Homo sapiens: one gene and its partners. The protein of the gene in region 2 interacts with the protein of the main gene of each other region in a biochemical or structural test. Each region holds a gene or a part of one and is shown on either strand. Other genes may lie near its edges. The genes, in order: STAM, USP15, GSPT1, USP28, TRIM63, MDC1 and USP21.

The links.
Region 1: of the proteins of USP15 (region 2) and STAM, one has a biochemical effect on the other in vitro, tested with the Homo sapiens proteins (one large-scale study listed by BioGRID).
Region 3: of the proteins of USP15 (region 2) and GSPT1, one has a biochemical effect on the other in vitro, tested with the Homo sapiens proteins (one study listed by BioGRID).
Region 4: of the proteins of USP15 (region 2) and USP28, one has a biochemical effect on the other in vitro, tested with the Homo sapiens proteins (one large-scale study listed by BioGRID).
Region 5: of the proteins of USP15 (region 2) and TRIM63, one has a biochemical effect on the other in vitro, tested with the Homo sapiens proteins (one large-scale study listed by BioGRID).
Region 6: the proteins of USP15 (region 2) and MDC1 form a complex in vitro, tested with the Homo sapiens proteins (one study listed by BioGRID).
Region 7: of the proteins of USP15 (region 2) and USP21, one has a biochemical effect on the other in vitro, tested with the Homo sapiens proteins (one large-scale study listed by BioGRID).

What each region holds. Positions count from the first base shown.
Region 1 is NC_000010.11:17,709,932-17,714,067, forward strand, and holds part of STAM (signal transducing adapter molecule 1), read left to right. Parts: intron 1-3,337; coding exon of another isoform or gene 3,338-3,449; exon of another isoform or gene 3,450-4,136. UniProt on the Homo sapiens protein: Involved in intracellular signal transduction mediated by cytokines and growth factors. Upon IL-2 and GM-CSL stimulation, it plays a role in signaling leading to DNA synthesis and MYC induction. May also play a role in T-cell development.
Region 2 is NC_000012.12:62,266,587-62,270,722, forward strand, and holds part of USP15 (ubiquitin carboxyl-terminal hydrolase 15), read left to right. Parts: intron 1-4,136. UniProt on the Homo sapiens protein: Hydrolase that removes conjugated ubiquitin from target proteins and regulates various pathways such as the TGF-beta receptor signaling, NF-kappa-B and RNF41/NRDP1-PRKN pathways.
Region 3 is NC_000016.10:11,873,966-11,878,101, reverse strand, and holds part of GSPT1 (eukaryotic peptide chain release factor GTP-binding subunit ERF3A), read left to right. Parts: intron 1-521; coding exon 522-695; intron 696-1,926; coding exon 1,927-2,016; intron 2,017-2,172; coding exon 2,173-2,341; intron 2,342-4,136. UniProt on the Homo sapiens protein: GTPase component of the eRF1-eRF3-GTP ternary complex, a ternary complex that mediates translation termination in response to the termination codons UAA, UAG and UGA.
Region 4 is NC_000011.10:113,812,955-113,817,090, reverse strand, and holds part of USP28 (ubiquitin carboxyl-terminal hydrolase 28), read left to right. Parts: intron 1-1,708; coding exon 1,709-1,917; intron 1,918-3,135; coding exon 3,136-3,206; coding exon of another isoform or gene 3,207-3,215; exon of another isoform or gene 3,216-3,336; intron 3,337-4,136. UniProt on the Homo sapiens protein: Deubiquitinase involved in DNA damage response checkpoint and MYC proto-oncogene stability. Involved in DNA damage induced apoptosis by specifically deubiquitinating proteins of the DNA damage pathway such as CLSPN.
Region 5 is NC_000001.11:26,054,021-26,058,071, forward strand, and holds part of TRIM63 (E3 ubiquitin-protein ligase TRIM63), read right to left. Parts: intron 3,631-4,051; coding exon 3,608-3,630; intron 3,308-3,607; coding exon 3,183-3,307; intron 1-3,182. UniProt on the Homo sapiens protein: E3 ubiquitin ligase. Mediates the ubiquitination and subsequent proteasomal degradation of CKM, GMEB1 and HIBADH.
Region 6 is NC_000006.12:30,707,156-30,711,291, forward strand, and holds part of MDC1 (mediator of DNA damage checkpoint protein 1), read right to left. Parts: intron 1,203-4,136; coding exon 411-1,202; intron 300-410; coding exon 229-299; intron 1-228. UniProt on the Homo sapiens protein: Histone reader protein required for checkpoint-mediated cell cycle arrest in response to DNA damage within both the S phase and G2/M phases of the cell cycle.
Region 7 is NC_000001.11:161,158,263-161,162,935, reverse strand, and holds the start of USP21 (ubiquitin carboxyl-terminal hydrolase 21), read right to left. Parts: upstream 3,437-4,673; 5' UTR 3,258-3,436; exon of another isoform or gene 3,236-3,257; coding exon of another isoform or gene 3,170-3,235; exon of another isoform or gene 2,571-3,169; 5' UTR 2,430-2,570; exon of another isoform or gene 2,317-2,429; coding exon of another isoform or gene 2,296-2,316; coding exon 1,696-2,295; intron 899-1,695; coding exon 839-898; intron 667-838; coding exon 546-666; intron 322-545; coding exon 210-321; intron 18-209; coding exon 1-17. Other genes in the region: UFC1 (ubiquitin-fold modifier-conjugating enzyme 1), read right to left, coding at 4,444-4,524. UniProt on the Homo sapiens protein: Deubiquitinates histone H2A, a specific tag for epigenetic transcriptional repression, thereby acting as a coactivator.

The DNA of each region.
Region 1 (4,136 bases), on a different chromosome or scaffold from region 2:
GAAAAAAGTGTTAAGTGTAGCTTGCACTCTTGCAGGATTTTTTTTTAAGTTGAAATCTGGTGGAAATGAATACCCTTCTGGAAAATAAACAGCTGTTCTTAGAGTAGCATGTTGCTTTACAACTAGATACAAAGGGGCTAGAAGGTAGGAATTGTTGAGAAGACACTAGGGTTCCTGACTTAATAGGACCCTGCAGCTATTTTAGTATTAGCCGGAACTGCCACTTTTCCCCTGCTAGTCCTCTGTTTGACTATGTCACATGCTGCTCTACCTTCCTTGTTACTAGAGATTACTTGAGACTCATTCTTCAAGGTCGGGGCCTTGGGAAATTATCCTTGTGAATGAGATAACCTGTTGGTAGGTGCTTTAACAGTGAAGTTCTGTAGCGCTGTGGTACCCTGCTGCTGTTCTCTGTGTGTGACTCTGCTTCTGCATTCGGGATGTGAAATCCCTGGCATAGGCCCAACCCTACCCATAGAGTGTAGCTATTAATGTCACCTCTCAAGGAACACATGTTTATTTCAACAGGTGTCTTTTGAAGAACATTTTCTTGAAATATTTAGCCCTCTCGTCCTGGCTCATTCCTGCATATTCTTTAGTTGTTAGCTTAGCTGCATTTTTACTGGGACATCTTCCTTGCTTTTCCACCTCTCAGCACTGTTCCTCCTGTGTGCTGTCAGAGGACTGTGTGTGTACTTCCGTTTCCTGGCTGGTAGTTGCCTTTTTACTTGTTTGTATCCCCACTGAAGACAGTATCTTGAGAGCTGGCACTGTCTTTCACCTCTATAGCCATCCTATGTAGCACACAGTTTTACACTGGCTAGGAACTCAGTAAATATTTTATGAATACATGTTTTAGTGTTAATGACAATTTCAAGTGCTATATTAGACCAGTTAGGTGTATTTTTTAAAAATTCCTTGCAAAGGCTTCACAAAGGCTTAGAGGCCATTTAAATATCTATATATAAAGGTACAATATGTAATATCTGTTTATCAATATATAAAAACAGATGTGTGTTTGTGTGTTTCAACGGGGAAATGAGGAATTGCTGGTAGAGCAAATGTAGGATGAGGAAATTGGAAGGAGCGAGGGCCAGGGTTAGAAATTTCCTTACTAGAGGTGTCCTGCGTATTTGACTCGAGCTTTCTAGCGGCAAATCAAGGTCAGTGAGGATTGTTGTTGTTTTTGGTAGGCAGGTTTTTTAGCACTCCTCAGTTTATATATATCTGAGAGGCTATCTCTTGTTACATAAAATTTTGGTGTTAAAGCTCACTGTTTTTCAGACTTCTGTCATCCTAGGACAGTCTTATTGTTAGTTGGGGAAGGTGTCACTGATGACGGTTTTCTAAAGCTACCTGTAGCGATGGTAGTATTATAAGGTGATAATAAGTGACAATTACTGTTAGTATTTTGAGACCACTGAAGCTTATGTATTTATTTGTCTCTGATTTTAGTTTACTACAGTCAGCATGTGCCAGGCACTGTGTTAGACACCTGAGAGTCTTCTTTAGCTTCAAGGTGCTTACTGAGTAGTAGGGGCAAACACATAAAAAAATATAATTTTATACAACATGATTTATAAATAAAGAAGATATATGCCTTGTACCTTAGGAGCCTCAGGGTTTGAGGAAGTTTTCCAAGAGGGTTATTCTTAGCCAGTAGAAAAAAAGTGAGGAAGATGTTCTGTCACGTCAGAGATGTGGTAGCCTGGAATGGCATGGTACCCATGGAGTGAGCAAAGATGGGAGGTGTGAAAGGCGTGGTATGTATCGGCATTCCAGCAGCACACTTACCAAGGGTTGAAAGCGTGTAGGGGAGCAGCGAGAGACATACTTGAAGACACTGCCAAGGTCGAAGAATGCTTGTTCTAGATACCATCTTAGGGATAATGAAAAAGTTCAGAAAGGGCTTTAAATGGCAGTAGCGTAGATGGATTCATAGGGGCAAGATTAGAAGCTGGGAGACCATGGATATTAGGCAAGAAATTATGAGTATTTGTTGGCAAGATACAGTGCTATTAATTGGAAAGAGTTATTTAGGAGATTAGCAAATAATTACACATTGGGTGACATGGTTGGGAGACAGCTCAGTGCAGAGATAAGAGAAAGAAGTATTGGTGAATTGCATGGTTTTGCCCCAGGCAACTGGGTGGACGGTGGAACTGTAAATTGAGAATGATTACAATAATGCTAACATTTAAGGGGTATTTAGTATGTTCCAAGCACTGTGCTGTATGCTTTACACAAAGTAACTTATTCCTCATAATAACCTGTGAAGTCGGTAAACTATTACCCCCATTTTATAGATGGGGAAGCTGAGACCTGGAGACAAAACGGAAGTCCCACTTAGCTAAGATTCTAAACCAGACATTCTGACTCCAGAACCCAGCGCATAGACTCTATATTACGGCAATATTATAGCCCATACCATTGTCAATAATAGTATGAAATTTGACATCTCCTAATCAACTTTATATCTCACACATATGGAGTGATGACAAATAATGCCTTAGGTCACCACATTAGTTGGAGAAATGTAGCATTAAATTACCGTCTCTTATAATAAATTACCATCAAATAATGAATTTGTGCCAAGTACAAGAGCACTGAATTTCCCAACAATAGATTTATAAATAACAATTGGAGGAAAGTTTAGAAGTAGGCAGTATTTTGAAAATTTGGCAGTTGCTTTTTATATTGCTTGTTTTACATTTTTAATACAAATGTAGGGGGAATTCTCAGCATCTTAGTACTTCTCTTCACATAGCTAACCTAGTGTCTTACAGTGGAAACGCATGTATTCCGTTGGAAACAGGAAGACAGGAAGTAGAGGCAGTGGATAAAGACAACCCTTTGAAGAATTTTTTTCTTTCTTTTTTTAATGGGAGCAGTGCACAAGTGCAGGGACTTGAGATGGGAGTACTGGCAGCGGAGCGGTGGGAGCGGTAGGGAAGCTCAGTACGTGAGGGGTGCAGCTGCAGAGAGTTGATCAGTGTGGTGTTGGAGCGTGTGCTTCCGTATTTTCAAGGAAATAAAAGAAATGAGGTTATGAGGCCTTCCCTTCCACTAGTCCTTTGGGACCGTTCTTGTCAAGAACCCTGGTGATGCCCATACTGCTAGACTCCCGGTCAGTTCACCATTCTCCTCCTCCTCCATTTGACAGTTCGTGATTCCCTCCTCTTTTCTGAAATGCTTTCTTCACTTGCTGGTGACCATTCTCTTTTCCCTTCTGCCTCACCGCCACTTCTTCTCAGCCTCATTTGCCTCTTGCCTCTTTATCTTCTGGACTTCAAGGTCCAGTGCACAGTAGATGGACTGCCTTTTTCTCTGTTTGCAGCCGCTCCCCAGGGGACCTCATGAAGCCCGGTGATTCTGAATGCCGTGGATCTGCCGAGGATTCCCAGATGCGTATTTCTCCTCCGTACTTCCCCACAGGACAGCAGGCTTGAATAGCTGATTGCCTATGCAGGACAACAGGCTTGAATAGCTGACTGCCTATGCATTCTCTTTGCTTGCCAGTTTTTTGGACATCAAACTTGACAGATCCAAGATTATTACTTTGATCTTCCCCACACCCCTCCCACCCCCGAGTCTACTATGGTCCCATCATAGTATTCTGAAAATCAGTGAATGGCCACTCTACCAGTTATTTCTACCAGTTTTTAGGTTCTAAACCTCAGGCATTCTGGACTCTTCTGTTCATTATCATATTTTGAAGGCATTATCTTCAAAATCTATCTAGACTCTGACCCTTTCTCCCATCTCCACCATTACTGCCGTGGCTCTTCTGCTGGTCGGCTCTCTCCTGGTGGATCGTAATAACCTGCAGTCAGCTATCCTGGTCCAGAGGGAGCCCGTTAAACCCTGTGGAATCTTATCACGCTTCTGCTCAGAACGAGCCAGTGTCTTTCTGTCTCACTCAGAGTGTAAGCTACAGTCCTTATTGTGGCCATCAGGTGCTGTGTGTTCTCCAGCCCCCTCCCCACCACCGCAGTCCTGCCGGTGATCTTAGCTGCTCTCCCCTCGGCACCCCCTGCGGCCCCCTCTGCCGCAGCACTCGTGGCCTGCTGTTCCTTGAACATGCTTGGTGTTTTCTCTCCTCAAAGGCTTCTTTCTGTTTACCTGAAATGTACTTT
Region 2 (4,136 bases):
CACTTCATTAATAAGTCATGATTATTGACAAAAGTAAATTGAAACCATTGGGCATATTGGTAGGGAAATAAGGGGAAGATAGAGAACAACTGATAAAGGTTGATTATGTGCATTACGAGATTTGATCCTCAAAAGAAGGACCAAAATATATATATTTATATGACTTATAGATGAGGAATCTGAGAGAAATTAATTTGCTTGCTCATAGTTTACTACCAGCGGACATTTATTAAATGCTTAGTCTGTCGCAGCCACTATTTTAAATGCTTTACACTTACATAGCCTTTAAAGTACATGCTCTTATTACACTTCATTTTATCTTTGATGATTTCAGAGCTGGTTTAAATACCTGGTTTATAAAGATTTAAAGTACTAGATACTATCTAATACTAAGAATAGATCCTTAGTATTAAAAATGGTTTTATGCTGTCACTACTCGAATGTAATTCAAACAATATTTCATTAAACCATGGGAATTTCTCTTTTTTCTTAGTCCTTGTATAGAATTTTTCAACAATTACTAAATACTTTTTTTCTTCCCTGAGTAATGTCAGTCTAGCTTGTTTCTTTTAATTTCCTCACTTACCACTGTAATTCACATTCTGTGTCTCATATTCATTCCTCTGAAGCCACTTCGCCAGACTCGTTCTCCCATTTATCCTTTAAACAGGGGAATGTAGATCCTTTAGATTTTATCACCCAGTTTACACAAAAGTCACTATTCAAGAAATCTAGCATAAGCCTAGTAAGTAGCCTCAGTTTTGGATACAGATTAAAATTATTTGAGGGAAGGGTCAAAAATGGCTCCTTACAAAGAAGGAAATAAGTTCCAATTATAATATAAAACAGAAAACCCCTGTAGGATTAACCTGCATTTGATTATGTCTAGACTGCCTTTACTACTTCCATCACTAAGATTCTACATGGTTTCCTTATAGCTCTCCAAAAAGAAAAGAGTAATGATGCCTTTTTTTCCTCCAAGGAATGGAGAACTAAGAATGCTAACTGTCCCTTCCATTCTCCCTTTAGTTTTGAGAAGACCCAGATATTAGCGTGGTAATTCCCCACCATAAGAGAAAATCATTTAGCAGAAGTACCAGTAGCAAGGACTTCTTTGTGAAGGAAGTCAAAGATCTCACAAAGAAGTTCAAGGGTGGCTCTGAGGCCAGGGTATTCTAAGTTTAGAGCCAGTTAAATCAAGACCTGAGAACATTTAGAGACAAAGTTACTTAACTGAAAAGAGCATCAAGTTCCTTGTTCCAGGTAGAAAACACCTGGTAATCTGGATTGATTTCTGTTATTTACCCATATGTTTTTACAGCTTAACAAAGTTTAACAGGTTAGTCAAGAGATTTGCCTTTGATAAAAAGATGGGAAATTTATATTCATACATTTGAATGGATTTCAAGCTGAAGAACTTTTTAATTCTCAGGAGAGATGTAGCTAAGTATTTATATGTACCACATAGTTGTGGCTATGGTTTACAATAACTTATTACTCATTTACTATGTTAAGAGCATTTTAAAAGTTCTCTAGATACAGGTTCCATATATAATGTAATATATTTATTCCAAATATATTACATATATGAAATACATGGTAGTATTCTCATTTTACCAGTACAGAAACTGGGATAGTTAAATGTATATGGTCATAACACTTAGTCAGTGGTAGAGCAGGAGGTCTAACTTAAAGCTTGCATTTTAAATTCTAAGTGTACTGCCTGCCTATGTGTGATAGAGCCATACCCAGATTATGGAAGCAACTTTTTGAAAGACAAATACTTGAAAGTATTAAAATCAAGAAATGACAGCTTTGTAATACTTGTTAAACACATTTTCATTTGTTATTAATATCAAGAGCCTCTAGAATTTTGTGAGTCTTCTTGTTTTAGCCTTGTAGTCTCAGCAGTCTCATTTCTAATTAACATATCTCTGTTTTGATACAGATAGTGTCTCCCATTTCCTGCAAATTATTTGCTTTTTCCTGCTTTTGGGGCCTTTATGCCCCATTTCTGTTGTTTCAGATACTTCTTAAAAATTACTGACTTTCATTTCAAAACCTAGTTCAAAGTCAGTCTCTAAAACCACCTCTAATCTCATCCAAATTTGTGGCCCCTCCATTCTTTGCTTTTAAAATATATATGTATATATAAAACAGCTTTATTGTGATGCTATTCACATACCTTACAATTTGCCCACTTAAAGTGGACAGTTCACTGGGTTTTAGTATACTCGAAAGAGTTGTGCAGCCATGACCATAATCAATTTTGGAATCCAAAAAGGAACCTCATACCCATTAATAGTCACCTCCCATTTCTCTCCCAAACTCCTCTGTTCTAGGCAGCTACTAATCTATTTTCTGTCTTTATATATTTGCCTATTCTGGATATTTTATATAAATGGAATCGTATAGTATGTGCGATTTTTGCATCTTGCTTCTTTTACTTAGCATACATGTTTTCTAGGTTCATGCATGTTATAGCATATATCAATGTTTATTTTTACTGCTGAATGATACAGTCATGAGTCACTTAATGACAAGGATAACTTCTGAGAAATGTATGGTTAGGCAATTTTGTCGTTGTGTGAACATCTTAAGGGGGTACTTACACAAATCTAGATGGGATTGCCTACTACATACCTAGGATGTATTGCCTATTGCTCCTAGGCAAAAAAAACCTGTACAACATGTTACTGTAGTGCATACTGTAGTCAATTCTAATACAATGGTAAGTATATATATATGTGTGTGTGTATAAATATATATATGTGTGTGTGTGTATATATATATATCTAAACATAGAAAAGGTAGAGTAAAAATACAATATTATGATCTTTTTTGTTTTTAGAGACAGGGTCTGGCTCTGTCACCCAGACTGAAATGCAGTAGCCCAATATTGGCTCACATTGCCCTTGATCTCCTGGGCTCAAGCAATTCCACTGCCTCATCCTCCCAATTAGCTAGGACTACAGGCAAGCACCACTGTGTCTATTTTTTATTTTTATTTTTTTGTAGAAATGAGGATCTTGCTGTGTTGCCCAGGCTGGTCTTGAACTCCTGGCCTCAAGCACTCCTCCCACCTTAGTCTTCCAAAGTGTTGGGATTATAGGCATGAGCCACTGTGTCTAGCCAGACATAATGTGTCTGTTATTGACCTAAATGTTGTTATGTGGTATGTGACCATATTCCATTGTATAGATATAACACATTTGATATATCCATTTATCAATTGATAGACATTTGAATTTCCAATTTTTGCCTATTTTGAATAATCCTGCTATGAACATCCATTACAAGTTTTCATTTCTCGTGTATATACCTGTAAGTGGAATTGCTAGGTCCCTGTTTAACTTTTTAAGGAACTGCTAGACTGTTTTTCTAAGTGGCCGTAATTTTACATTGCCACCAGCAGTGTATGAGGGTTCCAGTTTTTTCACCTCGTCAGCACTTATGTTCTTTTTTTTAATATATAGCCATCTTAGTGGATATGAAGTAGTATCTCATTGTAGTTTTGATTTGCATTTTCTTGATAGGTAATGATGTTGAGTATCTTTTCACCTGCTTATTGGCCATTTGTATGTCTTTTGGATGTCTGTCCAGATTCTTTGCCCATTTAAAAAATTTGGTTATTTTGTCTTTTTATTATTGCATTGTAAAAGTTCTCTAGATACAGGTTCCTTATTAAATAGTTAATTTACAAATTTTTCTCCCATTCTGTGGATTTTCTTTTTACTTTCTTGGTAGTGTCCACTGAAACATGGAAGTTTTTATTTTATTGAAATTCAATTTGCCTGTTTTTTCCTTTGTCACTTTTGCTTTTGGTATCATGTCTAAGAAGGCTTGGCTTAACTCAAGGTCATGAGGATTTACTCATATATTTTCTTTTCCAAGTTTTGTAGTTCTGGCTCTTACATTTAAGTCTGTAATTCAATCGAGTTAATTTTTTGTGTATATGGTCAGGGGAGGAGTTCAATTTCATTCTTTTGCATGTGGTTATCCAGTTGTCCCAAAACTATTTGTCAAAAAGATCATTCTTTTCCCTGTGCAATTATCTTGGTACCCTGCTTGAAAATCAATTGACTGTAAAAGTGAGGGTTTATTTCTAGATTCTATATTTGATTGACATATACCAG
Region 3 (4,136 bases), on a different chromosome or scaffold from region 2:
TCATCACTATCTAATTCCAGACCATTTCATTACACCAAAAGGAAATGATGTATTCATTAAATAGTTGATAGACTTTTAAAGCTTAGTTCAATAATTTTTAAGTAGTGCATAATTCCGATATTTGGAGATTGATAGGTAATAGAAGACAGGTTTATTAAATCCTTCATAGAATTCCATAATAATAAAAATTATATCCATAAAACTGAAATCCAAATATTAAATTGTGTTTTCGATTTTGAAAAGGTAAAAAAAGGCAAATGCTAGTGTATACAGTGTTCTAGTTGGAAATGATTAGAATGTGATATTTAAAAGGTGACACGTTAATACTTTAATTGGCAGTTATACTTCTAGGATATGATTTTTGCTGATCATATCTAGGCTAAGATTTTATGTCATACAAACATAAGTGTTTACAGTCAAATCTTGCAACTCTTTATTGAGCAGACAGACATTCAGATCATTTTATGTTGCGTAATGCAGTGAATGTGTCAGAAAACCTCCAGTCTTGTTTTCTTTTAAAGCACAACGTGGAAGTTCTTGGAATACTTTCCGATGATGTAGAGACTGATACCGTAGCCCCAGGTGAAAACCTCAAAATCAGACTGAAAGGAATTGAAGAAGAGGAGATTCTTCCAGGGTTTATACTTTGTGATCCTAATAATCTTTGTCATTCTGGACGCACATTTGATGCCCAGGTAAACAAATTATTGTTGTTGTCATAGTGGGTTTTAATGTCTAAATGAAATTAGAATATCAGTGCCTTTTGTCCTGATTATTTGTGACATGCCAGTTAACCCATCTTAGTGTAGAGAAGGGGAATGGAAATATTATAAGCCACTTATATATCATAACCACAATAGGCACCTCATACAAGGTCTTCAAGCTGGTACAAGTGCTTACTGGATAAGGAGTATTCTTTGTAAGTTCCTTTTTATGTTTGATCTCCTGATGATACATTCTACAGTATCTAATATTCACTTTGACCAGAGCACAGTTACTGTGGAAGTCATGGTTTATGTGCTCATTGACAGCACATAGCTTTCCAGACAAGAAATCACACAGGTTTCCCTGTTATTAACAATCTAACCTCCCTGGGAGAATGACAGAGTAAGTGACTGGTGTGAATAACAGAATTTTTTAAAGTTCTTTTCTAAGGTATGACAACTAATCAAGTTAGATTTTGATGCCAGATGTAAGGTTGTTTACTTTACTGGACCTTGGATATTGAGAAATGGATAAAGCTGGATAAGTTTACATCTAGGTAGCTTCTGAGCGGTAAAAATTAGCTTAGTTCCTTGGGGAATATAAGGAAAGTCTTCCCAGATAAGAAAGTTGGCCTGCTGTCTTTTGTTTTGTTTGGAGATGGGGTCTTGCTCTGTCACCCAGGCTGGAGTGCAGTGGCGCGATCTTGGCTCACTGCAACCTCCACCTCCGGGATTCAAGCGATTGTCCTGCCTCAGCCTCCTGAGTAGCTGGGATTTAGGCGCCCACCACCACGCCTGGCTGATTGTTTTGTATTTTTAGTAGAGACAGGGTTTCACCATGTTGTCCAGGCTGGTCCTGAACTCCTGGCCTCAGGTGATCCCCCCGGCCCCCCTGCCGCCTCGGCCTCCCAAAGTGCTGAGATTACAGGCGTGAACCACTGCGCCCAGCCAGCCTGCCGTATTTTGAAAGTTGACCAGGGACTTGCCAAGAAGATAAATACAGGATAAGATACTGAAATTCATGCTTTGAGTTCAAGCAGCCTGACCCATCCTGTGAACAAAATTAGTAAGACAAACCTATCACCTCTAACACAAAAATCACTTAAGTTGATGTCCTAGTGAGATGGTAACACTAATTCTTGGGATTTATATGGCGCTTGAGAACATTGAATTCTTATTTACCCTAAGGCTAAAGATAAGAATGTGTGTGTTTGTTTGACAGATAGTGATTATAGAGCACAAATCCATCATCTGCCCAGGCTATAATGCGGTGCTGCATATTCATACCTGTATTGAGGAGGTGGAAATAACAGTGAGTTTAAGATAATTGGTTTATTTCTGTTTTAATACTGTTTTATCTTCATAATTTCTAATCAGCAACAGTGATGCACTTTTATTTCTACACCTGTTCTTAAAGATTATTTTATTTGGCATTATTCTGATTTTCTCATACTCTTTTCTTGGTTAGGCCTTAATCTGCTTGGTAGACAAAAAATCAGGAGAAAAAAGTAAGACCCGACCCCGTTTTGTCAAACAAGATCAAGTATGCATTGCTCGCTTAAGGACAGCAGGAACCATCTGCCTTGAGACCTTTAAAGACTTCCCTCAGATGGGTCGTTTCACCTTAAGAGATGAGGGTAAGAGCTTTTAAACTGACGTCTAGTAGTATATCCAGGATACCTAGCTTTGGTCATCTTCATCATCTCAGTACAGTACACATTGCAACAGGTTCACAGAAAACTTCGATTCACATTCTTATTCGTATGAGTGTTTTATGAGTTGAATGTATTGAACAGAATTGACCACGTGCTTTAGTAGTAATGCCAAATCTAGTAATGCTCTACGTGAAGAATCTTAATTTTGATGTTTTGTGAGTAGTGGATTTGGAGGGCTATTTTGTTTACTAAGATATTTCTATGATGTAATCCTTTGTAATATGTCTAGCGATTAAAAGGAACATAGAGATTGATTTTTTTTTTTACACCTAATTTTTCAGAGGTCTAATCTTTGTGACCTTTTGTGTGCATCCATTTCTGCCTACCTCTGGGTGACGCAGAACAACTAACATTCCCATCTTGGGGTCATGAAGTTCTTTGGCATAAAAACAAAATGATTGTTATGAAACGTTTCCTTATGAGCTTTTAATATTCCTGTCCTTTTCCTTTCCCTTTCCCTTTCCCTTTCCTCTTCCCTTTCCTTTCCTTTTTTTGAGATGGAGTCTCGATCTGTCACCCAGGCTGGAGTGCAGTGGCACCATCTTGGCTCACTGCAAGCTCCACCTCCCAGGTTCACGCCATTCTCCTGCCTCAGCCTCCCGAGTAGCTGGGACTATAGGTGCTGCCACCATGCCTGGCTAATTTTTTGTATTTTTGTAGAGACGGGGTTTCACCACGTTAGCCAGGATGGTCTTGATCTCCTGACCTCGTGATCCGCCCGCCTTGGCCTCCCAAAGTGCTGGGATTACAGGCGTGAGCCACCGTGCCCGGCCCAGCTGTTAATATTTCTAACTTAGATAACCATTTTAAGACTATAGAAGACTTTACATAAAACTTTATAGTTCCATTGAAATACAGAATAGTCATTTCACATGTTCATTCCAATTCCATTTAGCAAAAACTACTTTGTATCTACAAAGTGTCAGGAACTGTGCTAAGCCCTGGTGATGAATACAGTTCCTGAACTTTACATTGGATGAAATTGTATAAAGACAGTGTTTATTTTACTTTAAAGGCCCAGAACTCTTCTGGTTGATAGTAAAACTGGTTATTGGGTTTATCTTATTAATATAACAAAATGATAGTTTTAGTTTACCACTCAGAACCTGATAAAATCAGGAAGACAGAAGAAAAGCAATTAATGTAGCAGGAATTCTTAACCCTAGAATTATTTTTTCCTAAAAGCTAACTTGGCTTTAAAAAAAAAAAAAAAAAAAAAAAAAAAAAAGCTAACTTGGCTTTTAGGTTTTCCACAAGACCCAATGGGTTTTGTATCCTTTCAGTCCACAGGATTACTACCAGAAGGACGTGTTCACTGCACTGTAGTCAGTGGTGATTGCTGTGCCTTTTCACAGTTACTTAAGGATAGGTTTTGGGATTTTTTTTTTTAGCAGCTTTATTGAGATACAATTTCCATAATATGAAATTGACCTGTTTTAAGTATGTAATTCAATGAATTTTAGTATGTTTACAGAATTGTACAACCATCACCATATACTAATATTAGAACATTTAGAACACCTAAAAAGAAACCTTACACCTGTTCATAATCACCCCTTATTCCCACCTCCACCCCAGGCAACCATTTTTCAATTTGTCTTTTATAGACACTCCATAAATAGAATTATAAATTATGTGGTCCTTTGTCTAGTTTATTTTACTTAGTGTGATTTTGAGGTTCAACCATGTAACATGTTATTTATTCCTTTGTATCACT
Region 4 (4,136 bases), on a different chromosome or scaffold from region 2:
GTAGCTAGGACATTTGATATGTGTTACCTGGCTAATAAAAACACTAATACTCAATAAAAAGTTAGACTTTTTTGTCAAAAAATCTTAACTATTCTCCCCAACACATCCCCCGCCACCGCCCCACGTATTAATATTTATTCATCCATGTATGCATAGAAATGCTTATTTGGATAGAACATACCAAATGTCAAGAATGATTATCTCTAAGGAGTGACATGAGTCTGGGGATAGGAGTGGGGCTGCTCTTTCACTTTTTATATTCTACTTAAATTTTTTAATTTTTGTAAAAATAGAATCTTTTTATGTATATTATGAAATGTAAAGTTTTAATTTTTAAAAAGTGGTTCGGCAGGCTATTTAATCAAATAAAATAATAGTGCTTGGTATTAGATTTAAAAATTACAGGGAGGTGTATGTGTGTAATCTCCTCTGAAATTGAGATATCTGTTCCCTTGTTGGGCTTATTTTTCCATAAGTATGGACCTTAGGGAAAAGAGATTTCCTCCATTATTTTGTGCATGTGAGAGAGTGAGGAGGAGGGAGTGAGGTTTTTTTGTTTGTTTGTTTGTTTGTTTTTTTGAGATGGAGTCTCACTCTGTCGCCAGGCTGGAGTACAGTGGCATGATCTCAGCTCACTGCAACCTCCGCCTTCTGGGTTCAAGCGATTCTCCTGCCTCAGCCTCCCAAGTAGCTGGGACTACAGGCGTGCCACCATGCCCAGCTGAGTTTTGTATTTTTAGTAGAGATGGGGTTTCACCATGTTGGCCAGGGTGGTCTCGATCTCTTGACCTGGTAATTTGCCCTCCTTAGCCTCCCAAAGTGCTGGGATTACAGGCGTGAGCCACCGTACCCGGCAGGAGTGAGAGTTTTTTTTTAAGTCAAAGTAAAGGAAGTTTATATTCTTCAGCTTTGGTGTAAAAGAGAAACCTAACTACAATTAGAAGCTTATTTTATATTCCTGCTGGTTTGTTGACCTGCAGTTTTACTCTGACAATAGAGAAATTAACATTTACTTGATATGCTTTATTCTCTGTTAGTTTACAGAAAAGACGTAAAGAACTTAAGATTTATATTTTGTAGATGAGATATTAATACTTTTTTCCTTGGGTATTTAGCTAAAGTAGTAGAGCTAGGATTGTTTGACTTGAAGCCCTTCTCTCAGAACTCTCCAAGGTGTCACCTAGTGTGTATTCCTGTGAGTTGTATGTTCAGCTGATGCTTCCTTTTTCTTCCTTCTGTGTATTTTGTTCCAGGAAGGATAGTGTCACTTTAGTTGGCTTCATCTTGTAAACTCTGTAGTTGATTCCTTGATTCTTCCAGGCCTAGTCTTCTCTTTTCCATTTTCCTTCTCTTCCCATCCTCATGGGAAGGAATAATCAGTGATCAGAGAACATGAGCTAAAGACTGGCCGATCTGGCTTTGGATTCATTTTCATTACCTTCCAGCTTGGTGAACTTGGGCATGTTGCTTAATTTATTTAAACCTTAGGCTCACAGTTGGTAAAATAGGGATAGAAAAGTATCTACCTCACAGGCCAGTTGTGGTACGTGAGATGATAGAGAAAAAGGTTGGCTCTGTACCTTTATAGAGTTAATGCTCACTGAATACCTGTACTTTTTCATATAGCATCTTGCTTTCCAAAGTACATAATTTAGGCCAAGGTATCTTTTGGAAATTATCATATGAGCATGATTTTTGTCTTCCTCAGTACAAGTACAGAAAGCTCTTCTCAGGATGTTGAAAGTACCTTTTCTTCTCCTGAAGATTCTTTACCCAAGTCTAAACCACTGACATCTTCTCGGTCTTCCATGGAAATGCCTTCACAGCCAGCTCCACGAACAGTCACAGATGAGGAGATAAATTTTGTTAAGACCTGTCTTCAGAGATGGAGGAGTGAGATTGAACAAGATATACAAGGTTGGCTCTTTTAAAATTTGTCAGTTACTCTTTGCTTTTTCTGTTTTTTGACTATTTGGAGGTTAAGCACCTCGGTACACTTCCTGACATTACTGTACATGCTACAGAATTTCCCCCCCGCCGAGATGGAGTCTCACTCTATCACCCAGGCTGGAGTGCAGTGGTGCAATCTCAGCTCACTGAAACCTCCGCCTTCCGGGTTCAGGCGATTTTCATGGCTCAGCCTCCCAAGTAGCTGGGATTATAGGCATGTACCACCACACCTGGCTGATTTTTTTTTTTTTTTTAGTAGAGATGGGGTTTCACCATGTTGGTCAGGCTGGTCTTAAACTCCTGACCAAAACTGATCTGCCTGCCTTGGCCTCCCAAAGTGCTGGGATTATAGGTGTGAGCCACTACGTCTGGCCCATGCTTTTGAATTTTGACATGGTAATTGTGACTTCTTTTGCACTTTTAGTGCCCTGTAAACTTGGCTCACACACCCCCATTATACAGATATGGAAAGATCTCCCCCTCAAAATTTCTGGGAAATGATCACCTTTGCTGAGATTTTTCTGCATCAACTGATTTCTGTTTCTGTGGTAGATTATCTGAACTCCAGCTTAAGTTGACCCAGATTTAGCATTTAGCTTTTCTGGACTTCTACTCTTCAGTCTTTTCTATAGGAAGCATGCTTTACTGAAGGTTAATGAGGTATTTGAGCAGTATGCACAATGTAAAATTGGATTATTCAGCATTGTATTCTTAAAAAGCCCTTTGACCTCATTGCCCATATTGCTCAGACTAACCTTACCCCCCTTCCTGTCTCCTTTTGTCTAGGGAACAAAAAGATGATGGAAAATACAGATTCTTCCCAGATTCCTATTCAGAGAAATTTAGCCTTACCCTTTGTTCTGCTTTCTCATTTCAGATCCTGTCTGAGGCATACATTTTACAGCCAAGTGACCCATTAAGATCTTTTCCTAAACAGCTTACTCTTTAAGAAATTTTGGCAATTATAAAAAATAATGTTTTAAAACCTTAATGTAATTATATTGAACTAAAAGCTTTCATAACCTAAAGTACTAGCTGCTTTAAAACTGTATATTGCTTCGTGGTTCATAGAGGGAAGCTGAAATCATTAGGACCCTAGCAATATTCTTTGCTTAGTTAAAGTAGCCTGTGTGACATAGAATGAGATCATTTTAGTGAAGCTTTTGTTTTTCTTTTTCCAAACAGATTTAAAGACTTGTATTGCAAGTACTACTCAGACTATTGAACAGATGTACTGCGATCCTCTCCTTCGTCAGGTAGAATGAAAATTGATGGGAAAGTAGTCAAGGCATGTGCTAATGGTAGATACAAAAATCAAATTTGATAGTTTTCTTTTAAACCCAATGGGAATCCCCCTAAGATAAAAGAATAAACTTAAGATATAAATTGATGTTGTTCTGTTTCTTTATTTTAGGCTAAAGAAAGCAATATACCTTTTACCAAAAACAGGACCTAACACATACTTGTTTGAATTCTGCCACATGGAATTTTTTCATATTGTAGAAAGGTTTGCTGTCAGATACTAATAAAAATTACTTACAAAATGGTACTTTAAGTAGTGCAGTGGGAAAAACTGAACTAGAGAACAGTTATCCTTTCTTTCCCAAAGTTCCATGATTCTTCAAGATCTTTAATTTAACAACATGCGTTCAAGCTTTATTTCTGTAATAATAAATTCCAAAAGAGAGTTAGGACAGAAATTCTTAACTATCCACAGAAGTGTTTGTTAGAATAAATTCTGGGAATGGAGGGGTAAAGAGCCTCCAGGAGTGTCTCTGAACCTATTCTGGTTAGGGGCATGGACTTTCAGTGGCTTCTGTATGAATGACTGGAATGGGCAGAATGGCTTGGAGGAGGGGAGCCCTGTTTCTAGAATGGCATTGAGGCACAGTCCCATTGCTTAACAGGAATGCACCATGTAAAACGCAGGCTTCCCCATTTTTTCTTTTGTGTTAATTCAAAAATCTTCACCAGTAATTAAAATAGGTCAAAGTAAGTGTAAATTTAATTTGATTCTGTGACTGACTTTCATCTCTTTTACTAGTATTTAGTTAGCATTTAAGCATTGCTCTATTTTCTCTATATTGAAAATACACAAATGTGCTTTTCAAATGTTGTAACAAACAAGTATGTCATTAAAAGGGTCTTCACTCCAGATAGATAAGTGGTCACTTAACTCTAAGAAG
Region 5 (4,051 bases), on a different chromosome or scaffold from region 2:
AAGAGGAACCAGGCAAGAGAGAGCACGGTCTAAACCCCTTCCTGTGCCCAGTCGGGTCAAACGGCCACACAGCGGCGGCAGTGGTCTGGGAGGGGATGGGCTTGCCAGACCCACGCTGCACAGAGGCCCTGCTCCTGCAATCCCCCGCACTCCGTCCCAGGGAGCTGGGCTCAAGTCACTTCCTTGCTCCAGCAACAGCAGCTTCTATCACCTGCTCGCCTGTGACCAGAGAGGGGACTCTGAGGAAGCGCACTCTGTGCTTCTGCACATCTCTCGGGTAGGCAGATAAACATTGCCTGAGGAGGAAAAACCTCCTCGATCCTCAGGGATCAGAGTCCTTGTCTTGAAGGAAGCTACTTAGCCTATGAGATCTGCTTGTTCAGCAGCCACTGTCCCATTTTCCTCATTCCTTAGCCTGTGGAGGGGAGGGGTGGACATGATGGGGAAGCACTTCTGGAGCCACCTCTGCTCCCTGAAGCTGAGCACCAGAGGGACAGTGACTGAGCTGCAACTCATGTCCCCACTTTTTTATCCTGAGATGTCACCGTCAAGCTTTAACAGGGAACATCTCCCTTCCCCGCTCCTCTCCCAAGCTACCTCCTTAACCTTTTGGGGCCCTGAAGGGGTCACCACAGAATCAGAACATTTGTCAAGAGTATCTTCAGGCCAGGCTTGGTCGCTCACACCTGTAATCCCAGCACTTTGGGAGGCTGAGGCGGTCAGATCACCTGAGGTCAGGAGTTCAAGACCTGCCTGGCCAACATGGTAAAACCCTGTCTCTACTAAAAATACAAAAAATTAGCTGGGTGTGGTGGCATGCACCTGTAATCCCAGCTACTTGGGAGGCTGAGGCAGGAGAATCTCTTGAACCCAGGAGGCAAACGTTGCAGTGAGCTGAGATCACACCATTGCACTCCAACCTGGGCGACAAGAGCAAAACTCCGTCTCAAAAAAAAAAAAAAAAAATAGTATCTCCAAAATGACAACCAAAATTCCAGCCAAGTAACTGATATCAGAGTATAACCCAGGGAGTTCTGTTGTTTAATCATTGTCACAATGACTACATTTAATAGCAGTTGCTGAGTACTTACTATGTGCCAAGTAGTGTGCTCAGTGTTGAATCTGCATCGTCTTATAAAATCCTCACAAGAGTTTTGCAAGCCAAATGGCCCTCAGTAGAATCTGCACAGGCTACTTGCCAGCTGTGTGGCCTTGAACAAGTGGCTTACCCTCTCTGAGCTTTAAGTTCCCTCAACTACAAAATAGAGATGGTAACAGAACCTATCCCATGAAGTTGTGTTAAATGATAAAACTTATGTTAAGGGCTTAGCGCCTAGGACATACAGAATATTCAGTAACTGGTGACTGTTGGTACTCTCCTCATTTTACTTGTGGAGAAACTGAGGCTCAGGGAGATTAGGAAGGCCAGTGCAGGACTTCACAATGTTATGTTCACACCGTATGACCCACTCTTGAATATCTATTTCTTTCTTTTTTTTTTTTTTTTGAGATGGAGTTTCACTCCTGTTGCCCAGGCTGGAGTGCAATGGCGTGATCACAGCTCACTGCAACCTCCTCCTCCCGGATTCAAGCAATTCTGCTGCTTCAGCCTCCCGAGTTAGCTGGGATTACAGGCATGCACCACCATGCCCAGCTAATTTTGTATTTTTAGTAGAGACGGGGTTTCTCCGTGTTGGTCAGGCTGGTCTGGAACTCCTGACCTCAGGTGATCCACCTGCCTTGGACCCCCAAAGTGCTGAGATTACAGACGTGAGTCACTGTGCCTGGCTGACCCACTCTTGAATATCTTAGCTTAGGGAAGCTGACAGTGGAGCAGCTCACTACAGCAGTGGATGTCCCCAAGGCCATTGGTGTCTCTGCTTTGGGATGTATTTTGTCCTTACCTATGAATGGGGTATATCTGGGGCTCTGAAAACAGACTTAGCACCAGCTACTGAAGGTTTGTAGGAGAGCGACACAGGAGGTGCCAAGAAGCTCTTCTCTTTCTCACGCCAGCCATTTACAGTTCTTCCTTGTTCCTTCATCATCCCCTTGTCCCCCAACCTCAGCTGGTCATTGGAGCACCACCTCTCAGACCAACGCAACAGTCAGCAATGTGGGATCTGCCCTCTCTTTCTCTGTTGCCTTTTAGCTGTGTTTCCCTTTTAGCTGTGTGACCTTTAGCAAATTAACATATTTGCTTCCATTCAGTTTCTTCATTTCCTTTGTTATTTTCACCCTTATTATTGTTACGGTTGCATTGTTACAATTATTATAGGCACTCTATGGAAGAGTAATTATAAACAGAAATGAGGACATGATGTTGATCAATTAAGGTGCCTGGGTATCATAGGTGATAGCATTAAGAAACTGAAGCTAAGACTACCTTTAGGCAATAACTAGTACATCTTTAGGGCTCTACAGGACCTTTCTGCATTGATATCTGATTTTTTGCAACAGCACCATGAGTTGGTCATTATTAGAGGGCTCACTTCTAACCTGACTTTTTAAATTAGAAAATAAAACTCAGGCAGAAGGGGGCTTGCCAAAGGTCACACAGATAAACAAATGACAGAACCAGGATTTAAACTCAGGACTGTCTGATTCCAGAGGGCATATTATTTCTACTGCCCCAAGAGGCCTCCCTGCCATGGATCCATATGTAATTTATGAAGCAGGAATTCTGCACCAGGCACTGTGCTAGGCTCTGGGCTCATCTAGAAATCGACTATATGAATTTTTTTTTTTTTTTTTTTGAGATGGAGTTTGGCTGGCTCTTTTGCCCAGGCTGGAGTGCAGTGGCACAATCTCGGCTCACTGCAACCTCTACCTCCTGGATTCAAGTGATTCTCCTGCCTCAGCTTCCCAAGTAGCTGGAATTACAGGCACATGCCATCACGCCTGGCTAATTTTTGTATTTTTAGTAGAGATGAGGTTTCACCACGTTGGTCAGGCTGGTCTCAAACTCCTGACCTCAAGTGATCCGCCCACCTTGGCCTCCCAAAGTGCTGGGATTACAGGCATGAGCCACCACAGCCGGCCAGAAGTTGGCTATATGAGTTTGATTGATATTTGGGGATCTTTATTAGTGTATCTGCCTCCCCATCGGGCTCAGTTGGAGGGATGCTGGTTTCCAGGGGTCAGGCAGGCAAATAGACAAGTGGCATCACCACCTCCTTTACCTGTCCCAAAGTCAATGGCTCTCAGGGCGTCTGCTATGTGCTCTAAATCCAAAGTAAAGAAGTCCATGTTCTCAAAGCCCTGCTCTGTCTTCCCCAGCTGGCAGCCCTTGGAAGCTTCCACAATGCTGCAGGGGAGACAGAAAGAGAGGCAGGATGAGGTCTCTGGGGCTCAGTGCAGGGAAGAGAGGGCACATGCTTTGCCACGCCCAGGCCTTCTACCCAGAGGCTCCCCTGGAGGGATGGAGTATTTCCTCTCCAACCTCAAGCACAAGGAGTGGTCCAAAAAGTCAGGGATGCAAAGGGTCAGGGAAGCCAGCCTAGAGTGAGACCCTCCCAGCAGGCCTAATGCCCAGGATGAGGCTTCCTGGACAGAGGTCCTGGTGGGAACTAGGTGCTTGGATCATAGCCTCTAGGAAGACACTGACCTTTTGATGAGTTGCTTGGCAGTCTGCAGGGGGAGAGAGAACAAAGGATTAGGACCGCAGAAGAGGTAACCGCAGGAAATCAGCAAAACTAGTGAACTAGGTGTTGTAGGTAGATATTTGGTGCCATTCCCTAGCCCAGTTGTGACCTGCTCCCCACCCCAAACTGAGCAGAATCTGGAACTTTTCCCTCTGTCTGTGGTCTGTACAGGTCTTGGTCATCACCCTAGGACCCACTGTCTTGACAGGAAGCTTGGATTCTAGGGGTATCAATCCCAAAACTCCTAAACCCTGAACTCCCCAATCCTAACCACCTTTTCATACCTAATGTCTAGCAAAAAGCCTGGCCCACAGTAGAAGCCTAGAACATTTTTATTGAACTGAACTATGAAGTCTTATAACTGAGCCTTTTCTGTCCTCCCCAACAAGCTCTTTGAGGGCAGGGCT
Region 6 (4,136 bases), on a different chromosome or scaffold from region 2:
ACACGAAGGGTCTTTCTTTTGAGTCAGGTAGGAGATACAACTTAGGAAACAGATATGGAAAACAACGGGTGCCGAGGATAAAGGAATAGAAGCCAATCAAGGCGTGACAAAAATGGAAGAAAACTGAATAATGAGAAAGGAATAGATTAAAGTGAGGCTAGGTGAAAGAGCATTGGAGAAGATATAGAGATGACTTGTGGAATAGGAGGTAGAAAAAGTAGCTCTCACCCTGGAAACCTTCTCAGCAGCTCTGATCCTGGAAGCCTTCTCAGCAGGTGGCATCTTGCAATTCAGGAGGCCTAGACAGAAAGTAAACACAAAGGTGGCTGAGTTCCAAGCAGCTGGTTGCCCAGGGGTTGATTATCACGAGGCCTGTGTATCACCTTGGGTTCCCCTCTGCCTTCACTTACCTTTCTGATGCCTCCTGGGGCTCACTGGGGATCCCCTTCCACCTGACTGGCTCCCAGAAGGTACGGGGGCTGAGGTAGGTCCCGGAAGGTCCCCCGCCCCCACCCCAGGCTCTGGTGTTGGGCTGGAGGCCTGCCCTTTCTGGTCCTGGCTCCCTCCCTCTGGCTCCCCTCTCTGTGTATCTCTCTCCAGGATCACTTTGGGCACCTTCTCTTCTAACTCGGCTGGATCGCACTCTCTGTTTGCTACTGGTCTCTCTACTTCTCTCTCAAATGCTTTGCTTGGAAGGGTCTGCTTCTGTACTTGTTTCTCTTGTATTTCCTCAGATGTCTCAATTTCTACCTTCAAACTCTCCCTATCTCTTTCAGGACTTGCACTTTCCCCATTTTTGTCAGATTCTTGTCTCTGGGTGTCTCTAGCTAACAACTGTTTTTGTTCTCTGTCCTGTTTCCCCTTGGTTAATTCTTCCTCTCCTGTCACATCTGTCTGTCTTTCTGGTAGCAGTTTCTCAGTTTCTCTCTCCAATGGCCCTCTCTCAGGGCCCACCCTCTCTGCTGTTTCTTTTGGTATACCCATGACTTTATCCACAGTCTGCCTCCCTCTGCCTTGAATCCCCATTGGCTCTGTGTGAACTGGGCTCTCTGGATGTTGGTCTCCTGGTATTGCCCTAGGTGGAGACAGGCAAGGTCCATAGGCCTCAAGGTGCGTGTCAAAAGGCTGGGTCTCAGAGTCCTCAGACTCTCTCAGACAGAATGGCTGTGTAGCCAGGACCTCCCATGGTTCATCTAGGGTACCTGGAAGGGGAGGAAGGAAGAGAGAGAGAGGGAGAGGGAGAGAAAAGAGGGAGAGGAAGAGGGAAAGGGAAGTACAGGTTGACATAATAAATATGATGAGAAAGGATTTAGATAAACTCATGAATAATAAATCTGAACAGGTTATTAAAGGTAAGCTGGGAATAAGGGTGGTAGTTATAACATTTAACGTTTGTCTCAAAAAGGTCATAGCCTTAGGCGGGCATGGTGGCTCAGACATGTAATCCCAGGACTTTGGGAGGCCAAGACATGAGGATTGCTTGAGGCCAGGAGTTTGAGACTAGCCTGGACAACATGGCAAAACCCCATCTCTACAAAAAATACAAAAAAATTAGGTGTGGGGACGGGGACCTGTAGTCCTGTAGTCTCAGCTACCCGGGAGGCTGAGGTAGGAGAACTACTTGAACCCCAAAGGTCAAGACTGTAGTGAGCTGTGATCATACCACTGCACTTCAGCCTGAGTGACAGAGACTCTGTCTCAAAAAAAAAAAAAAAAAAAAACCCAAGAGAAAAAGAAAAACATCATAGCCTAATATGAGTTCCCTGAATAGTCTCTCATCATACCACTGCATTCCAGCCTGAGTGACAGAGACCCTGTCTCAAAAAAAGAAAGAAAGAAAGAAAGAAAGAAAAACATCATAGCCTAATAAGAGAGTTCCCTGAATAGTCTCTCTCTCTCAAGACAGTTTCACTCTGTCACCCAGGCTGGAGTGCAGTGGCATGATGTTGGCTCACTGCAACTCCCAACTGCTGGGCTCAGGAGATCCTCCCACCTCAGCCTCCCAAGTAGCTGGGACTACGGCATGTGCCAAAGTGCCCGGCTAATTTTTTGTATTTGTTGTAGAGATGGGGTTTGGTCTTGAACTCTTAGACTCAAGTGATCCACCCACATTGGTCTCCCAAAGTGCTGGGATTACAGGTGTGAGCCACCATGCTTGGCTGGAATTTCCTTCTTTTTAAAGGCTGAATAGTATTCCACTGTGTATATATACCACATTTTCTTTTTTCTTCATTGACACATAATAATTGTACATATTTATGGGGTACCTGTGCTATTTTGACTCATGCATACAATGTACAATGATAAAACCAAGATAATTGGGATATCCACTATCTCAAACATTTATCATTTCTTTGTCTTGGAAACATATCAAATCTCTTCTAGCTATTTTGAAATACACAATAAATTATTAACTATAGTAACACTACTGTGGAACTGAACACTAGAACTTATTCATTCAATCTGACTGGATTTTTGTATTCATTAACCAACCTCTTTATGCATTCTGTCCCTCTACCCTTCCTAGCCTTTGGTAACCACCATTCTACTCTCTACTTCCATGAGATCCATGTTTTTAGCTCCCACATGAGTGAGCATACAATATTTGCCTTTCTGTGCTGACTTATTTCACTTAACATAATGTCCTCAGGGTTCATCCATGTTGCTGCAGATGACAGGATTTCATTCTCTTCTGTTGCTGAATACTGTTCCACTGTGTATATATACACATTTTCTTTTTTTTTTAGATTGAGTCTTGCTCTGTCACCCAGTTTGGAGTGCAGTGGCATGACCTCAGCTCACTGCAACCTCTGCGTCTTAGGCAGCAATCCTCCCATCTTAGCCTCCCGAGTAGCTAAGACTACAGGTGCATGCCACCATGCCCAGCTAAATTTTGTATTTTGAGCCACTGCACCCAGCCTATATACACATTTTCTTTTTTTTTATTATTAGAGATGAAGTCTCACTCTGTTGCCCATGTTGGAGTGCAGTGGTGTGACCTTGGCTCACTGCAACCTCTGCCTCCGGGGTTCAAATGAGTCTCCTGCTTCAGTCTCCCGAGTAGCTGGGACTACAGGCACCTGCCACCATGCCCAGCTAATTTTTGTATTTTTAGTAGAGACAGGGTTTCACCATGTTGGCCAGGCTGGTCTCAAACTCCTGACCTCATGTGATCCACCCACTTCGGCTTCCCAAAGTGCTGGGATTACAGGCATGAGGCACTGTGCCCGGCCTACATTTTCTTTTCTTTCGTTTTTTTGAGACAGAGTTTCACTCTTGTTGCCCAGGCCAGAGTGCGATGGCACAATCTCAGCTCACTGCAACCTCTGCCTCCTGGGTTCAAGGGATTCTCCTGACTCAGTCTCCTGAGTAGCTGGGATTACAGGCATGCACCACCACACCCGGCTAATTTTGTATTTTTAGTAGAGACGGGGTTTCTCCATGTTGGTCAGGCTGGTCTCAAGCTCCCGATCTCAGGTGATCTGCCTGCCTTGGCCTCCCAAAGTGTTGGGATTAGAGGTGTGAGCCACTGTGCCCGACCCCGGCCTACATTTTCTTTATCCATTCATCTGTTGATGGACATTTAGTTTGATTTCATATCTGCCTATTGTGAACAGTGCTGCAATAGTGTGTGTGTGTTTTTTTTAAGAGACATTGGGGGTGGGGGTTGAGGGATGGGCTATTGCCCAGACTGGGCTCAACTGATCTTCCCATCCTGGCCTCCCATGTAACTGGGACTACAGGTGCTCACTACTATGCTGGGCTAATTTTTTCATTTTTGTGGAGACCAGGTCTCTCTCTGTTGCCCAGGCCAGTCCCTAAATATTTTCAACCTGCAGCTGGTTGAATTCACGGACGCAAACTCGCATACACAGAGGGCTCACTGTAATCAGAGTATGAAAGAAACATGTAGGAAGGCAAATCAAGAAAGAACGCAGGCCGGGCGCAGTGGCTTACGCCTGCAATTCCAGCATTTTGGGAGGCCGAGGCAGGCGGATCACTTGAGGTCGGGAGTTTGTGACCAGCCTGGCCAACATGGTGAAACCCTGTCTCTACTAAACATACAAAAAATTAGCCAGGCATGGTCATGGACAGCTGTAATCCCAGCTACCTGGGAAGCTGAAGGAAGAGAAACC
Region 7 (4,673 bases), on a different chromosome or scaffold from region 2:
CTTGGGCATCCTGCTGGCTACAGCCAGACAAAGAGTATGGGCAACTGACTCCTCTCCTAGTCCACAGACACTATTCCCTGCCCAGATATTGGTCCCCACTTCCTGGATGAAGAACATCTCAAGGCTCAGAACAATGCTGCCAGGGCCCTTGCTTGGCCCTACCCCCAGACATGGCCAGAGAGAAATCCCATAGCCTCCAGCTCTCCCACCTGTATCCAGAGAAGGAGGGAACATATTTCTGGAAGACAGCTCGGAATCGAGTAGGATTCACAGCTTCGCAGGAGTCAGGGTGCCAGAGGGCACCAATCACATCTGCAAAGGCTGTTGGGATGGGAGTGGGGAAGGCAAACAAAGGTTAATGTCTGGAAGAGGCAAGCAAAAGGTGGCTCAGAGGGTAGAAAATAACCTTTAGGAAAGTAGGCACTGGGAAAAGTAGATACAACTGCCAGATTTAAGGGTTGGGGGCCACCACCAGTGGCAGATGGACCTGCAAGTGGTTGGGGAAAAAGGGACTTGAACAGAGGGAGCAGGAGTTGTTGCCCCACCTTCAGTGAGCTCTTGGGCTCGGCCTCCTCCAGGCACCTCTTGCCGGAAGTCCCTTCTCAGACAGAAGTCCCGAAGAGGTCGAGTGCTGCTCAGACACTGCAGCACAGCATTCAGGAAGCACTGGGGAGCAGTAGGGACACTGCTGTTATCTCTCCAGACCACTGCCCAGGAAGCCTTAGAAGAGCTTCAGAGCTCTCCTTCCACATGCCTTCCCCAAGCTCGTGGGTTTTCCCCACCCCCAGCACCATTTCACATTCCTTTTAGAGAGGAAAGATAGGAGAATAGCTCTCACCGTGTTTCCCAGGTTTCGAAGGCCAACATGACCAGAGCCCAGAAGGAGTGTGTGATGAGCCTGGAAGGTCAGAGTACAATCGGCAAGTTCCTATATATCCTACCTGGCACTTTAACCTTTCAACAGCATGCTGCCCACTGCCTCCCCCATCCCATGCATGTTTCATCCCCAAACTCTACCCTATTCCCCTCACTAGGTATTCTAGTCTCCCTACCTCACTGGTCATGAGCAGTAAGCCCATCACAGCTGAATGTACCACGGACTCAGCCATGGCTGTCCCACCTGTTGCCCACTTACTCCTCTGCTCAGCTAGCTGACGTTGCAGCTCCTGGGGCAACTCCCCCAGCACCGGCATGGTTGCCCAGCTGCTCACCACTCCCACCTTTCTGCCCCCAAAACCCCCTCCTGCCCCCGTGGCCCCTTCTTGCCCTTCTCCTGCTGGCTCCAATTGCAATCAGCCTAGCTTACTTAGCTCAGAAAATGTGCAACCACGTTTGCTAAGATGTTCTGTGCCTGCCTCTCTTTAGCTCCAGAGATTAATTAGGCCTAGGCAGAGTCCCAGTAGAGAAGGTGCAAGCAAGGGAAAGGAAGGGCCTGGGGACCCAAAGAAGAATTCTAAATAGTTGGGGTAATCCCCTGGGGACCGAAATGGCACACCATGCTGAAGAGTCACCAACAACCCAAAAAAGGGTCTAGGAGGCTCAAGGGTATTTAAGCAAGGGAGAGGCATGTCCAAACTGCTGTAATGAAGGGCTGAGAAAGGAACTTCAGGGAAATGGGGGACAGAAAAGGCAGAGGATGGCAGGAAAGCACAGAGGAACATGGGCATGAAGGCCATGTGTGTGGCAAGTCCTCACCATCTTGTCATCAGAGTAGAAAGGCTCAGAGGACCGGGCGGATATCATGTGGAAGGAGCCATGGGAAGCAGGGGGCTCTGTCCGTATGCTGAACAGGGTAGGGGGTCCAGGAAAGCCCCCTAGGCGGCGGAGAGAAGTGCTACGTCTCAAAGTGGGTGGCTCAGGCCGGAGGGCCAAGCGGCTCAGTGCAGCCCCAAGCTCTCCGGTGCCACGGTGCCCTCCCAAGGCAATCCCCATTGGACGCAAGTCCCCACTGCTCACAGACTTGGAACGGGCTAAGTTGGTCCGAGATGGGAGAGGCAAAGCCACTGTTGGGGGTGGTGAGCCAGGCAGGGGAACCCCATGATCTGCTCGAAGGGGGCCTCTGGGACGAGGGCCTGAGGTCCGTCCCCGTCCCAGCTCCAGTTTCTTGAGCCGTTCATCAGGCAGACCTGGCCGGGGAGGCAGAGGTCGTAACATGGGGTTTGGCCCAGAGGCTGGGTTTCTGCGCTCCTTGCTGCGGGCCCTGGGGGCAAATGGTAGCTTGGATCCCACTCGGGGCTGGATATTAACAGGTGGCTCTCGGGTACGGCCCAGGCGGTGCTCAGAGGCCTGGGGCATTGTGGACACCACAGGCTGGACCTGGGAGGAGAAGAGAGTGTCAGCATTTGAATATGGGGGGAAATGGGAACCCAGGCTGCTGTACTGAACCCTGCCACACTAATTTTCCCTTATTGCTTTGCCCCATTCCATACCCACAATCTTGCTGTCCTCTCATTTCCACATTAGGTGGTTGGCTCAGTCATCACCACTACCACATCAACGAAAGTGGGGAGCAGTATACGCACTGAGGGCAGGAACCAGATCTATCGAATCAGCCATCGTATCCCCAGTACCTGGCATCGTGTTTGGTACAAAGTAAATACTTAGTATCTATTGGGTAAACAAATGAATGAAAGATAAGCAGCCCATGGCTTTGACCCTTTCTATACTCCCGACCCCTCCCTGCAGAACACATCTTTACTGAAAAGCCAGTGATAACTCCTATCTCGGCTCTAACGTAACATGGGACCCCATACCCGGCTAGTAAAGTAGGATGTGCCTCGGGTCACTTAAGACCCTAGCCAAATGGTAGTGTAGATGCAAGAATAACAGCCCAAAAGACAGCCCTCCATCCTCGAATCCCTGCCTCTCTGGGCTGCAAATGAAGCAGACTATATGGGTGACTTACGATCCATTCCCTCCCCCACCTCCGACCTCCGACATGGTGTCGAGGTTCAGAAAGCAGTAGTCGGGGATGGAGGACGAACAACTCCTTGACCCTTAATCTCTGCACTTCTCCCACCACAGCAGGGCTTTAGCCGGGTCCGCCCCCCTCGAGGGCAGAAAGGCCGAGACCGCTGATTGGCTACGGAATCCGGCGGCGTATTCCCCGCGGTCCAGGGATGCTGTCCCTCCAGCCCAGTTCTCCCAGGCCCCGCCGGGCCCCACGCGCCTTTGTGGAGAGTGTCCTCTCGGGTCTGGAGCAGTCTTCCCTCTGCGCCCCCCCACACCCCGCCATGCCATAACGCCCCGGCCCGTACCTGTCCCCCAGTGAGGCGGCGGGAGAGGCCAGCCAGGGCCAGGCCCCAGTTCAGGGCCACCCCCTACTACCCCCGTGCAGCCCCCCCGTGGGCCCGGCTGCAGCTTTAGCCGCAGCCGTTGCCCAGATCGCTCCCGCCGCAGGGGCCGCCGCCATCTTTGTTGGTCCCGCCCGGCCACCGGCCACCGGCTTCACCGTCTCTCAAAGCGCCTGCGCATCCACACCCGAACTCCTCCCACCGGTCCCTTGGCGCTTGCGTGAGCCCGCCCCCACGGCTCCGCGATCGACACCATGGAAACGCAGCCAAGTTTAGGGTCGCTGGTTCTCAACGCTGCCCAGAGAGGTCTTTAATCCATGACTCCAAAGCAAGTCCCTGAGGTATAGGGTGCCGTCGCCCCATCCTATAGCCCATAGGGATGGAGATCTGACAGTCGTAGTATGGCCGCGAGGCTTACAGCACAGATCCTTCCCAAACAGCAGGGGCGCAAGTATGGCAAACTGCAGGCCTGGGTCCAGCCCGCAGACCAGTGGAGAAGCATCTAGCACTTCACAGAGGGCTGGGAAGATCCCTGGAGGGCGGGAAGTGCTGGTCCGGCAAAACCACTTCTTGCAGGCTAACACGGTAGGGCAAAGCATGGCTCACCACTAAAGGACAAAGGTAGATCTGAGCAGCAGGGGGAACAGTCAACATTTCATTCCCACTCCTGACCAGAGCATCCCCTATTTCCGACTCTTTCCCAACCCAACCCGGCGTAGCTGTTCATGTGCCTCAGGTTTCAGCCCACTTGCCCTCTGTTAACAGCTCCCAATGAGAACCACAGGCTACCAGAGGAAGCAGCTTTTATTGATGGGTTATCTCCAGAAACCAGAAAGACTATATGTACTCACTTTCAGTTACCCCCGTGCCTCCAGAATCGCATGTTGCTCCACCTGGGGGCGGATATAAATTACCTCTAGATTGTCCAAAGCCCAGTCTTTCCCTTCCCTGTGCAGCCTTAGAAACTAAGTAGCAGTACTGTTTGGTGTGTGTTTGTTTCTTCCCCAGCAATGCCTACTGCAGCTACTTAGTAACAACTAGAGGTGGAGGGTGTCCGGGGAAGCAGTTAGATGAGTTAAGTGTGATGCACAGGAAAATAGTATCGTAGCCTATCAAAGGTCCCTCTGCCCTGCCTCAGTGGCTTGATTCTTCATTGGTTGCATTTCTCTTTGTGTTGGATGACGCCCTTCTGAATCAGATCAGGGATTTCCACTGCCAGCCATGGACCCAGCTGCAATACAAGGAAAATCCTGTGAGATTACTACCAGTCAATGCTTCTTGTTCCATTAGAAGCTCCTTCCTGGAGACAGATTCTGGGGGAACATGCTTAAGGGACATCACTGTTATTCCTTTTATTCTTAGCTGCTTTTCTTGTACTGC